Linked DNA regions of Homo sapiens: region 1 is linked to region 2. The links come from fine-mapping of genetic effects on gene expression. Tissue or cell type: nasal epithelium. Region 2 holds a variant in brackets; the other region holds the start of a gene. All regions are shown on one strand. Distances are from middle to middle.

Evidence for each region. PIP is the estimated chance that this variant, and not a neighbour inherited with it, causes the effect.
Region 1: it holds the start of NUDCD3, and the variant in region 2 is fine-mapped to the expression of NUDCD3 in nasal epithelium (TOPMed, PIP 0.98).

Annotation. Positions count from the first base shown.
Region 1 is chr7:44,487,426-44,493,435 of GRCh38, forward strand. NUDCD3 (NudC domain containing 3) reads right to left here and starts at 3,233. Exons shown (of 6, transcript NM_015332.4): 1 at 2,984-3,233. The coding sequence starts at 3,175. RefSeq lists silencers at 2,815-2,984, 5,050-5,176.
Region 2 is chr7:44,438,622-44,444,631 of GRCh38, forward strand. All of the region lies in intron 2 of NUDCD3 (NudC domain containing 3), which reads right to left. Among named protein-coding and RNA genes, the nearest start is that of NUDCD3, 49 kb to the right of the region's middle. The variant C/T (reference allele first, on the strand shown) is at 3,490.

The DNA of each region.
Region 1 (6,010 bases), 49 kb after region 2:
CAGGAAGGAGTCTTATGCCATCAAGTTAGGGACAGAAAAAAAAAAAAACCCTAAGAGGCAGATGAGTAGGAGTGGGGAGGTCAGGAGATCACCTACTACCACGAAGAAATAATGTTATGCTGGTACCAAGTCACTCAGTCTCATTCAGTGTTGTCCCACCCCACAATAAAACCCTTGTCAATACTGAAATCACCTTTACAAACCTCCTGTCAAATGAGCTTTTGTGGATAAAAGAACAGGTTCCAGCCAGGTGCAGTAGCTCATGTCTGTAATCCCAGCACTTTGGGAGGCTGAGGCGGGTGATCACCTGAGGTCAGGAGTTCAAGACCAGCCTGGCCAACACGGTGAAACCCCATTTCTACTACTAAAAATACAAAAATTCTCTAGGCATGGTGGTACATGCCTGTAAACCCAGCTACTCGGGAGGCTGAGGCAGGAGAATCACTTGAACCTGGGAGGAGGAGGTGCAGTGAGCCAAGATTGCGCCACTGCACTCCAGCCTGGACAACAGAATGAGACTCCATCTCAAAAATAAAAAATAAAAAAATAAAAAAAAGAACAGGTTCCCAGGATTCACCCTGATCTACCCAACCAAAATATCCAGGAATATGTGCTTTTAAAAGTTCCTTGGCCAGGCGCAGTGGCTCACACCTGTAATCCTAGCACTTTAGGAGGCCGAGGCAGGCAGAACACAAGGTCAGGAGTTTGAGACCAGTCTCGCCAACATGATGAAACCCCATCTCTACTAAAAATACAAAAATCAGCCGGGCGTGGTGGCGCACACCTGCAGTCCCAGCTACTCGAGAGGCTGAGGCAGGAGAATTGCTTGAACCCAGGAGGCGGAGGTTGCAGTGAGCTGAGATCATGCCACTGCACTCCAGCCTGGGCGACAGAGTGAGACTCCATCTCCAGGAAAAAAAAAAAAAAAAAAAGAAAGAAAAAAGTTCCTTAAGCGATGCTGATGGTTGAGAACCACTTCCAGAAAACATGACACCTCTCTTAAGCATCTGCTGGAGACTGTTGTCCCCTTGGTTTCTGTGAAACTTATTGCTCTCCACCAAGATTATTCCCCAAGGCCTGTTCTTCACCTTTGGCTCTTCTCTCTCCCTCGGACCACTCCAGTTGCTCTAGCTCCCAAAAGATCTAGTCCAGTAATTCCAATAGCCTATGGGCAGGGACTCCTACCTGCAACTTCAAGTTCAACCTGTCTAAAACTGAACTTTTTCCCCTAAACCCAGGTGACAGTTCAGTTAACGCATTATCACTATTCCAGTCACCCAAGTTGAAACCTTGGATCATCTTTGACCCATCCCTCCCCTTCCTCCATCCCTGCTCCCCATCTCCACTACTTCATTAGACTGGTCACCAAATCCTAACCTATGGAAGTGTCTTGTAAGAGGTGTTACCAGGTAAATGAGTTACCAGGTTAATGAGTGCTCTGTCAGTTCATCTGTGAAACAAAGACCAACCTCTCAGGTTATATTAAGGGTTAAATAAGATAACGACCCCAGAATATAAAACATCTGATACTATACATATTACTCAGTATATACTCCTTTCTCCTCCACATCTTTCTGCAAACTACAATCAATCTAGACAAAAGTGTTCTCATCCTACTATGGAATGGTTAAACAACAGAACAGGAAGATTTGGAATCCACAAAATGAAATTTTTAGTTTCAGCTCTACGGTGAACTGGCTGTGTGTTCTTGGTCAAATCACTTAACCTTGCTGAATTGGTACGTAAACTTGAAACTTATCTGTTTCACAGAGACACTGAAGATCAAATGGCAAGACTTCATTAACCTGCCATAAGATCCTGCTAAAGGCCACCTCCAACAGCTCTCTCATCACTAAGATGGCACTTATGCCACTGACAAGGACGAGGAATAGCCTTAAGTTCTGAAATTGAATCCTAATGGAACCCCATTCCTCGTTTGGCCCTATTACCCTGGTAGCTACCAAGACATTCAAAGCTTTGGCTTCTGCTGAGGAAAGTAACATCTTACCAACCTGCAGCATGCATTAAGACTTCAGGAGGAAACATCTGAAGCATTTTATAAACTGTAACATCTAGAGAACTGAGGGAGGTATCATCAGCATTTCTATCTTCTTGGGTTTCTACAAATAGGCTTAATACTTGGCTGAATAGTTTCTTTTAATCTCATCAGAAGTCCCACCTCTCTTATAAAAACTTCACTTCTCAACCATCATTTCTATTTCCTTTCTTTACAATGGGCTCCATCAAATAATTGCCCTTAAAAAGTTTTCTATTACTTTCTGGGTTTTCTCTCTTTAACTGTGTCACAAGGAGAGAGAAACCATTACTTAAACACCCGTATCACCCTCACCTGCGGCAACTAAGAGTGTAAACTACATTCAGCAAAAGGTTGCTTACCACTACATTCAAAAGTGCCCAGTCAACTTCACTGAATGAGTATTGACAGCGTTTCCAACATACAATAAACTTAACCTGGAGGGTACGGAATTAAGCTCAAATAGAAATTTTAATAAGCACTACATTGACAGTCTTTGACCTGGGAAGTCACATTTCAAACAAGCGACCACACCCATTGATCAACACAATGCCTCCGTCATCCCCGCCAGCTCAAGTCTTTGGTAGTTCTGGGGCATGCACGTTTCTGTTGCTGTAAATGTCCTTCCTTCTGTCTGGCCTGCATGGATTTCGCTCCCTGACTAGCGGCCCCCAGCACCGTGAGGGGTACGCGCTGGCGGGTGCTGAGTAGGGCTCTTAACAGTCGGCTTACTACTTCTGAAACCTCAGGACGTCCGGAGCGAACACCTCAGCGGAATAAGCTGACATCCAATCCGCGCTTCAAATTACTGAAGCCATTCTCACAAGCTCAACCCCAGGACACCAGGAAAAGGAGGAAACAGGCTGGGAGAGCTTGGAGGAGCGGGCGCCAGGAGTCAGGGCAGGCCGGGGGCGGCGGCTCCCCAGACCGCAGGCCCGCCCGCCTCACCTGCAGCACCAAGGCCTGCGCGGCCCCGGGCGGGAAGCCCATGCGGTCCGATGGGTGGCGCAGCAAGCGATAGAAGTCTGTCTTGCGGTAGAGGAAGCCAAAGAGAACGCGCAGGAAATCCTGGACGTTGCCCACGTGCTGCAGGATGCCCAAAAGGGCCTGGTCATACAGCTCGGCCGCCCCTGTCTCCATGTCGCCTCCCGCCCTAGGTACGCTTCACACACACAGCGCCGCCTCAGACCTGCCGACTGGCCACTTCCGGCGTCCGCAGCCAACGGCTCCGCCGGACGGCGCGGCTGCGGAACTTCCGGTCCGTGCTCGTTCGGCCCCCGCGGCCCCGGGCTGTTTTCCCCAGACCCAGCTGCCCCACGGGCTTTGCCTTGAGGTGGTCTTAGACAAAAGAGCCCGACAAGGGCAGCAAGGAGGTTCCTACGCGGAAGGAAGCCCGTGGCTTCTGCTGCGCTGCGAGGGCTTGACCGCCATGTTTGAAGCGGGCGGAAAAAAATTATGGGGCGTGCAGTGTCACGTGACTGCTCGGATTTTTGTCACGTTGTCTGTGGATCCTTTCTTATTTCTGTGTTGAATTCCAGCCTGGGTATTTGGAACCTATGGTTAAAGATGGGGCTAGGGTAAGCTTTTTGTTAGTGAGCCAGAGACGGGAAAATGCGTATATGTGGGATGTATGGGTTTCTTATTAACAGATCTGTGAGTTAAACTCAGGGCGTTGCATCAGAAGAAAGTCAAGATGACGAAGAAAATAAAGAGTGCATTCAACGTATATTAAGTGGAAAGAGCTAGATTCAGAATAGAGAATCCGTATGCCATCGTTGTGAAATATGTACGTGTATGTGTGTGTATAGTATGTATATACATATATACGTCATATATACATATGTTGTTAGTGTCTGTCAAAGTATAATCTTAAAAAAGTAAAAAGCATGACACTCATACAAATATATCATGAACACATATCCAAGATTTCTTCAGCAAATTAACAATGATATGGTAAAGCTGGTTCAAAAGCATTTTGAGGAAGTGGAGATTAAACATTTTGACAAAGCATTAGAGTAAGATTAGGTTGGATACAAAGCTGGCTGGTGTTCTACAAGATGATAAAACCATAGATTATCATTTCTAGTGTATAGAAATGATTTGCACCTCTTCTAGATTAAAACATGCAAGTTAACATGTCTTCATAGTGTATAAGCTTTAATGAATTGTAAATAAAATCCAACTCAGGTAAATTGCCCTAGAACAGTGGTTCTGAAACTCTTGATTTAGGGACCATTAATCCTCTTAAAATTTGTTGAACATTCCAAAGAACATTTGTTGATATGGGTTATGCTTATCAATATTTACCACATTAGAAATTAAAACATAAAATGTTTAAATATTTATTTAATCATTTTTAAATGACCATAAAACACATTACATGTTAACATACTTTTATGCAAAAAATAATGTTCTTCAAAGCAATAAAAGTTCAGTGAGAGGAGTAACATAGTTTTACATTTTTGCAAATCTCTTTAATGAGCCTACTAGAAGACAGCAAGATTTGGCCGGCACAGTAGCTCATGCTTGTAATCCCAGCACTTTGGGAGGCCGAGGCGGGAGGATCAGGAGTTCGAGACCAGCCTGGCCAACACAGTGAAACCCTGTCTCTACTAAAAATACGAAAATTAGCTAGGCGTGATGGCAGGTGCCTGTAATCCCAGCTCCTCTGGAGGCTGAGGCAGGAGAATCGCTTGAACCCGGGAGGCAGAGGTTGCAGTGAGCCGAGATCACACCACTGCATTCCAGCCTGGGCGACAGAGCTAGACTCCGTCTCCACAAAAAAAAAGAAGACCACAAGATTCTCACATCTGCATTCACTGCAACATAATTTGCATTATGTTGTTTTCATTGAAGTATATGAAAACATGCAACCTCACACAGACAGTTGCAAATGAGAGGAATATTTTGTCTTTTCAAATAAATGTGGCTATTTGTCTTTAAAATGACATCAAAATTCTTCTACAAGCGATAGTTTCTATTTTTTTTATTTTTAAGAGGCAGGGTCTCCCTCTGTCACCCAGGCTGGAATGTAACGATGTGATCATAACTAACTGTAGCCTTGAACTCTTGAACTCAAGCAATCCTCCTGCCTCAGCCTTCTGAGTAGCTGGAACTACAAGCACATGCCACTGTGCCTGGCTAATTTTTAAATTATTTTTATAGAGACGAGGTTGGGCCTACATTGTTCAGGCTGGTCTGAAACTCATGGGCTCAAGCGATCCTCCCCTCTCAGCCTCCCAAAGTGCTGGAATTATAGGTGTGAGCCACTGCACCCAGCCCTGTAACTGGTAGTTTCTTAAAGGTTACTTGCCATATGGAATCTAAAACTGTATCTATAGACTTTTCATACTCTGTTACATTAATATCGATTGGTCTTTCACTTTGAATGGATCGTTAATAAATGCATGATTTTATACCATCATGTATTAATTAGTCATTTGAAAATGTTGGTCCACTGTGTTATGCAGCTCTTCCAAATGTTCACTCGTTTTATGCAACGAGCATATCTTGCCCCCAGATCTTGGTTTCTAATATCATTTCATTATATAATATCAAAAAATAACATTTGTTAGAATTACCACTAAACTCATCAGAGAAGTCTGTCTTTATTGACAAGCACTCAAGCTCATGGAAGCGGGATATGGGTTTTTTGAATTCTAATTTTAGCTTAAAAACTTGAACTTTATTATTGGAAGTAGATACAATCAATTATTTTCCTTGAAGAGACAGGCTCACTTCATTCTGTCATTCAAGTAAAAATGATGCTCTGTGACTTGTTCAATTGGCAACTCAATCACACAAGTGCTTTGCATCAGTGCAACCATTTTGCTTCAGTATGAGGCAGACATGTCTTATGTGTACTTCTCTTTTAATCATGCACTATTAAAAAGACTTGTTCTCAAGTGGAGAACTTTTAATAAAACAACTTTTAATAAAATTAATAATTAAATGCTATCAGGAGCATTCTTAAGT
Region 2 (6,010 bases):
TGCTAATCCACACCCCACCCTCATATCAAGAGAGTGCTAAGAGAAGGGGACTGTAGACTTCTATACACAGCTGGAGGATTTAGTCCCCAGAACAGTATTTTTCAAAGGGGAGGTATAAAATCTCCTTAGCAGAGCAGAACAGAATAAAATGGAATGAAATACGCAAGATACACTGCCAGAAAAAGAGCAAGCTCTGTTTTGTGAAACTGCCACTATGCAGGTACGTGCATACCTGGAAGCCTTGTTAACATGTATTTCTCACTATAACTACAGGTTGCAGCCAAAGTTTAAAAGCCACTGGCCATAAAAACCTATCACATTCATAGAAAAGGAGGTAAGAACAGAAGTTCTTGCTACACCTCGGTGAAGAGGAGGCCAGTGAGGCAATGAACTAACAGAGGGGCCCACAACAGCAATTACAAGCAGTGCATGAGGATGACTAACTCAAAAACATACAGCAGGAGGAGGAGTAGCGAGTGAGCACTGAGCAGTGAGAGCGGGTGGCCTGGGGGAAAGAAGGACATACCAATCATCATTGGAAGAAGGTGAAAAACTGGGGGCTCATAACCACAGCAACAACAGAAGTGAGGACACAGGATTCTGTTGGCCAACAATTTGTCAGGGACACATCTACTCCATGACAAAGAACTCACCTATTAAAAGAGGTTGTTAAATGCAGGTGACAGCTCATGTTTAGTTCCTATACATCCAGGTAGAGAGGTAAAAAAGAGGTATGTGTCACAGTGGGGTAGTAAACACACATCCATGTCCTGGCTTGGTCTGCTGACAGGGCCTAGAAGCAGGAGCCACGTGCCCTCTGAGTGCCCAGATCTTGGTTTCTAAATACCATTCAATAAAGGGAATTGGGCTCCCTGGACAATTCCTTTGGACAATGGCTGATTCTAGGACTGGAACAGAGAAAATACAAGATAAACCCAGAGAATCCTGTAGTGCCAAAAAGTAAGGAAGTGCTTAAAAAAAAAAAAAACAGTTGGGGAGGGGGTAGGGGGATGCAAAGATGTCAAAGAACTCAGAAGCCACAATGGCCAGAGCTGGAACAGTGTGGGGGGCAAAATAAATAATACAGTAGCAAAGAATAAATGAACCACCCATGAGTCCATACTGATATAAGTAACTGAATAAATTATAATGAACAAATGAGGGAAGGGGACAAATCTTCCTAATGGAAGTCCAATTAAAAATGTAGAAGGAATGAGGGAAATAGGAAATTGCCATTAAAACATAATTGCCAAGAGCCACTGATGATGCTAACTAACATCAGTAGGACCTTAAGGAAACAGGATATTTGCATAATCTCTAAGTCAGTATCTTCCCCCAAAATATTTATCAATTCCTTGTAGTGGTTTTAACATATGCTAAGAATTTAACAAATAATTTGAAACTCCTCCATCCTCCTAGGAAGCAGGATTAATGCCCCGCCCTTCAGTGGGGCTGGACTTAGTGGCTCTCATGAACAGGGTACAGAGAGGGGACAACGGGCACATGACATTGGAGGAACCTGGCCAACCAGCCTCAGCCACATGATCCAAGCAAACGTCACAGTAATAATTCATGTTAACATCATGTACCTCCAATGTGACATGATGAGAAAGACAAGACACCTCTGTGGTATTCCTCTCCAAATCCATAGCCCTGAGTCTAATCATAAGAAAACACTACATAGACCCAAATTGGGAACATTCTACAACATACCTGGCCTCTTCAAAAGTGTGAACGTCCATGAAAATCAAAAGAAGATGGAAATTGCCACAGACTGAAGGTGACGAGAACATAATGCCTAAATGCAAGGTGACTCCTGGACCTAATTCTGGAATAGAAAAGGGACACTAACTAGTGAGAAAACCAGAAAAATTGAAAAAAAAAAAAAAAAAAAAGCCTGTGATCATTATTACTAACTTGACACAGGATTTTTTTTTTTCGATTTTTCTGGTTTTAGTTAGTTTTCACAAATATATCATGCCAACTAACACTCAAAGAGAGGGAAAGGGGAGGAGGTTTAAGTCTGCAGCTGTGACAATTCAGACCATGGGGTTGAAGCCAGCCCATAGTTTGAATCCTGGGCTTCAGCTCATACTAGGTGTGTTATCTGAGCAAATTCCTCTATCTCATTAAAGCCTCAATTTCCTCATCTATAAAATGGGAACAATAATGATCCCAATTCTTAGCCTGTTGTGAGACTCATAAGCTCTTACCTAGTCTTCTTGCATGTGAGCTCTCTCTCTCACCAACATGAGGCTATTAGTAATACCTGAGTTAACAGTTTCCTTCCCTTGATACTGAATCACAGTCCTAAGCAAAAAGGTTTAGCACCCATTTTCAACTCAAGATGACAGTATTTTTCTCTTTTTCCTCCTTTTCTTCCCATCTCCCATATTCCCACAGTCCCACCAACTTTGAAAAGCAAATAAAAGCACTTTTCTCTCCATAATTTCCCTGCTGGGTGCCACTATTCACAGCACTTGATATAGCAAATTCTGGCAATGCTTTCCCATTTGATTTATCTAGAAGGTTGTTATTTACTGCTCCTGCTGTTTTGGGGGCGAAAATGTTAGTGGTCTACCAAGAGGACTTTCCAAAAATAACAAGACGTGTTTTCACAACAGTCAGTATGTGGAGGGCACTGTCATGTTGGTTTCTTAGCTTTACTCATAGCATGACAACACTGGATTTTTAGGGATTCTTAGACTAAACTACTTTGATATGACTAGTGAGGTTATCTTTTGTTTTCTTGAAGATATTATATCCTGGGAGGACTTTCAGTACCAAGAACCACCCAGTCTTCCAGGGAGAAATGAATTCCACATTGTCCAATTTTGCTCCCGCCAACAATAGCACCAATTTATTCTGCCTGGAGTATGGAAGCATCAGAAACCCTACATACAGCCCAGTCAAAGACTCGCCATGTCTACCCGCCCTGCCCAGCCTCTGTTCAGTCTCTGGACTCTCTGTGCCACCCTCGCAGCTAGGACTACCCACACTTGGATCCCAGGCTTCAGGTCAGGGCTCCATAGCTAGCCCACACATCAGAGCCGGCCCCACCTGCCACTCAAAGAGTACTGGCCCAGGTAACCTTACTGTTGTAGGTCCCAGGACACAGATGGGAACAACGTGGGACTTACAAACTTGGAGTTAATCAAAAGTGATTAAGTGGCTCTCAGAGCCTCTGGTCAACAGAGAAGGCCCCTGGGAGGAGCTGGACATTCACACAGAACTCTGATAAATGGCAAGACAGGGCCAGCTATGAAGACCACAGAGATGAGCAGCCTAGACAGTGTCCCACACAAACTCCTTGATCCACAGCCACAGCACTGGCTCAGGGCTCATCTTTGCCTCCAACTCACTGTGCCCTTGGGTTCATATCTCCATTTTCACATTTATAAAACTTACAAAATGGGAGCACATGAGTACCTTCCTCAAAGATGTTCCTGGGGTTAATGAGTGAATAGATACAATGCTCAGAACAGTGTA[C/T]GACTCAGAGTAAGTGTTAGCTGCAGTCATCACTGTCACCATCATTAATATTTTTACTGATGTAGATTATTAATACAAATAATATTGTTATCATCAAAGAGGAGAAGCTATCTTACTAGCCAAGATCAGCATAGGGCTTTTTAAAACAGAGTTCAGAATTTAATTAAAAAGTGATTGCAAATCACTGCAAGGTTGGGACAGGGAACAATGTTATTTGGTTGTTTTAAAAGGTCAATGCACAGCTGCCACATGGAGAGTAGACTGCAGAATGCCAAAAGAAGTAGTTCCAGGGGCTGTTTGGGGGCACCAGCATGGAGACTGCAGGCAAGCCTGAGGGTGTAAGCACATGCAGGAGAGTATGCACCTGGGGGACCCAGGGCAGGGCCAAGGACACTCAGGCTGAATCACTTCAGCCCCACGAGGGCTGAAGATGGGAGGGGACAAGTGACAAGATGGAGGCTCACCTCGCCTCATTCATCTTCTGTCTCAGCTCACTCATTGAATTACTTTCCTCTTACCCTCAAGTCTTTAACAAAATTGAACTTCCTCCCTAACTACAAGAGGGGCGGACTCTCCCCTTTTCTTTTTTTTTTTTTTTTTTTTGAGACAGAGTCTCACTCTTTGGCCCAGGCCGGACTGCAGTGGCGCTATCGCGGCTCACTGCAAGCTCCGCCTCCCGGGTTCACGCCATTCTCCTGCCTCAGCCTCCCGAGTAGCTGGGACTACAGGCGCCCACCACTGCGCCTGGCTAAATTTTTTTTCTTTCTATTTTTAGTAGAGAAGGGGTTTCACCGTATTAGCCAGGATGGTCTCGATCTCCTGACCTCGTGATCCACCCACCTTGGCCTCCCAAAGTGCTGGGATTACAGGGGTGAGCCACCGCACCTGGCCTCCCCTTTTCTTTATAGCACCTTCATACTTAACACCATGACATCAAATGACAACGTATTCACACAGAAAGCAGGCATTTTGTTTACTGGTTTATTTATGTTTACTTATGCAACCAAGAGAACCTATATGGCTGTCATGGGAGCCCTACCTTCTAGAAAGAGAACAACCACATCCAGCACAGTTTCTAACACACTCTGCATACAGGTGGGATGAGCTTTGAACACATTCAATATAAAAAAAAAAAGAACAGGTAACAGGTACAATGAGACTGCATGCTAATCTTAAAGAAGACATTCCACAACTTGTTACCTTTAAATTATCAGCTTTCCTATTACATTAAACAAGATTCAAGTAGCCAAAGTCTGAATTTTGTTTTCAATTTTACAAGAAATCTTTTTTTTTCTTTTCTTTTTTCTTTTCTTTTTTTGAGATGGGGTCTCGCTCTGTCGCCCAGGCTGGAGTGCAGTGGCGCCATCTTGGCTCACTGCTACCTCCACCTCCCGGGTTCAAGCAATTCTCCTGCCTCAGTCTCCTCAATAGCTGGGATTACGGGCATGCACCATCACACCCAGCTAATTTTTGTATTTTTAGTAGAGACGGGGTTTCGCCATGTTGGCCAGGCTGGTCTCGAACTCCTGGCCTCAAGTGATCCACCTGCCGCAGCCTCCTTCTAAATGCTGGGATTACAGGCGTGACCCACAGTGCCTGGCCCAATTTCACAGGACTTCTAAGAGCTGGATGCTGTTTAGGCTGAGGTCCTTGACTGTCTAGGTGAAGACCTGGGGCCCAGGTGCTGCTCGGGATAGTGGAGAAGAGACCCCACCTCAGCTCAAGCCCCATCTTCAGTTCTCCTGGGAGGTGGTTTACTGTAAAGTCAGTCTTCTTTATGAGCACCAGCCTCCTCTCATTATACTCTGAAATGCCTGTGTTTGCAAGCAAAAATGTACAACTGGAATTCAAGAGTATAGTCTATGAAATTCTCATAAAAGTGAGATTCCAGGTGTGTTCATCTAAGACTAATGCATTTGGATACCTCTCAGCTTCAAAAGACGCTATCATGTGAAAAGGCTAGAGCTTTTTCTATGAGCAAAACCGAAGGTTTGCTGTATTGAGAACAGAATTTCTGGAATGAGAAGGCTCAGGCCAGTGCAAGGAGGGCTACAGACTCAGGGTCCCTGCCCGCCACTTTAACCTTCTCATCTCACAGGTTATCAACAGATGATAGGATAGGAGGCATCCTATCACCTGTTCCTTGGCCTGTAAATCTAAAAAGAGAAAGCCAGAAAAAGTAAAGCAGCCCCTCTGCCCCTCTTCTTTCTGAGAAAGCATCCAGATAATCACAAAGGTTTGCTCCCTCCAAGACCTGTCCGAGGTGTCCCAGGCCTGGGGACAGGGGAAGGTGGATGTAAAGAACAGAAAGCTTTTCTGGCTGGGAGACAGGGCCCAATCCCTGAGAAGCCTCACACAAGTGCAGCATTTATATACATTCACAAAGAGAAAACCTCAACAAACTCGAGTTTGCTATTTAATAGAATCTTACACTAAGTCCTTTTGGTAAAGCAAAGAATTACTTTGACAGAGCAAAACTCCTCTACAAATTGAATACTTACATAACACCCCAACTTTAACG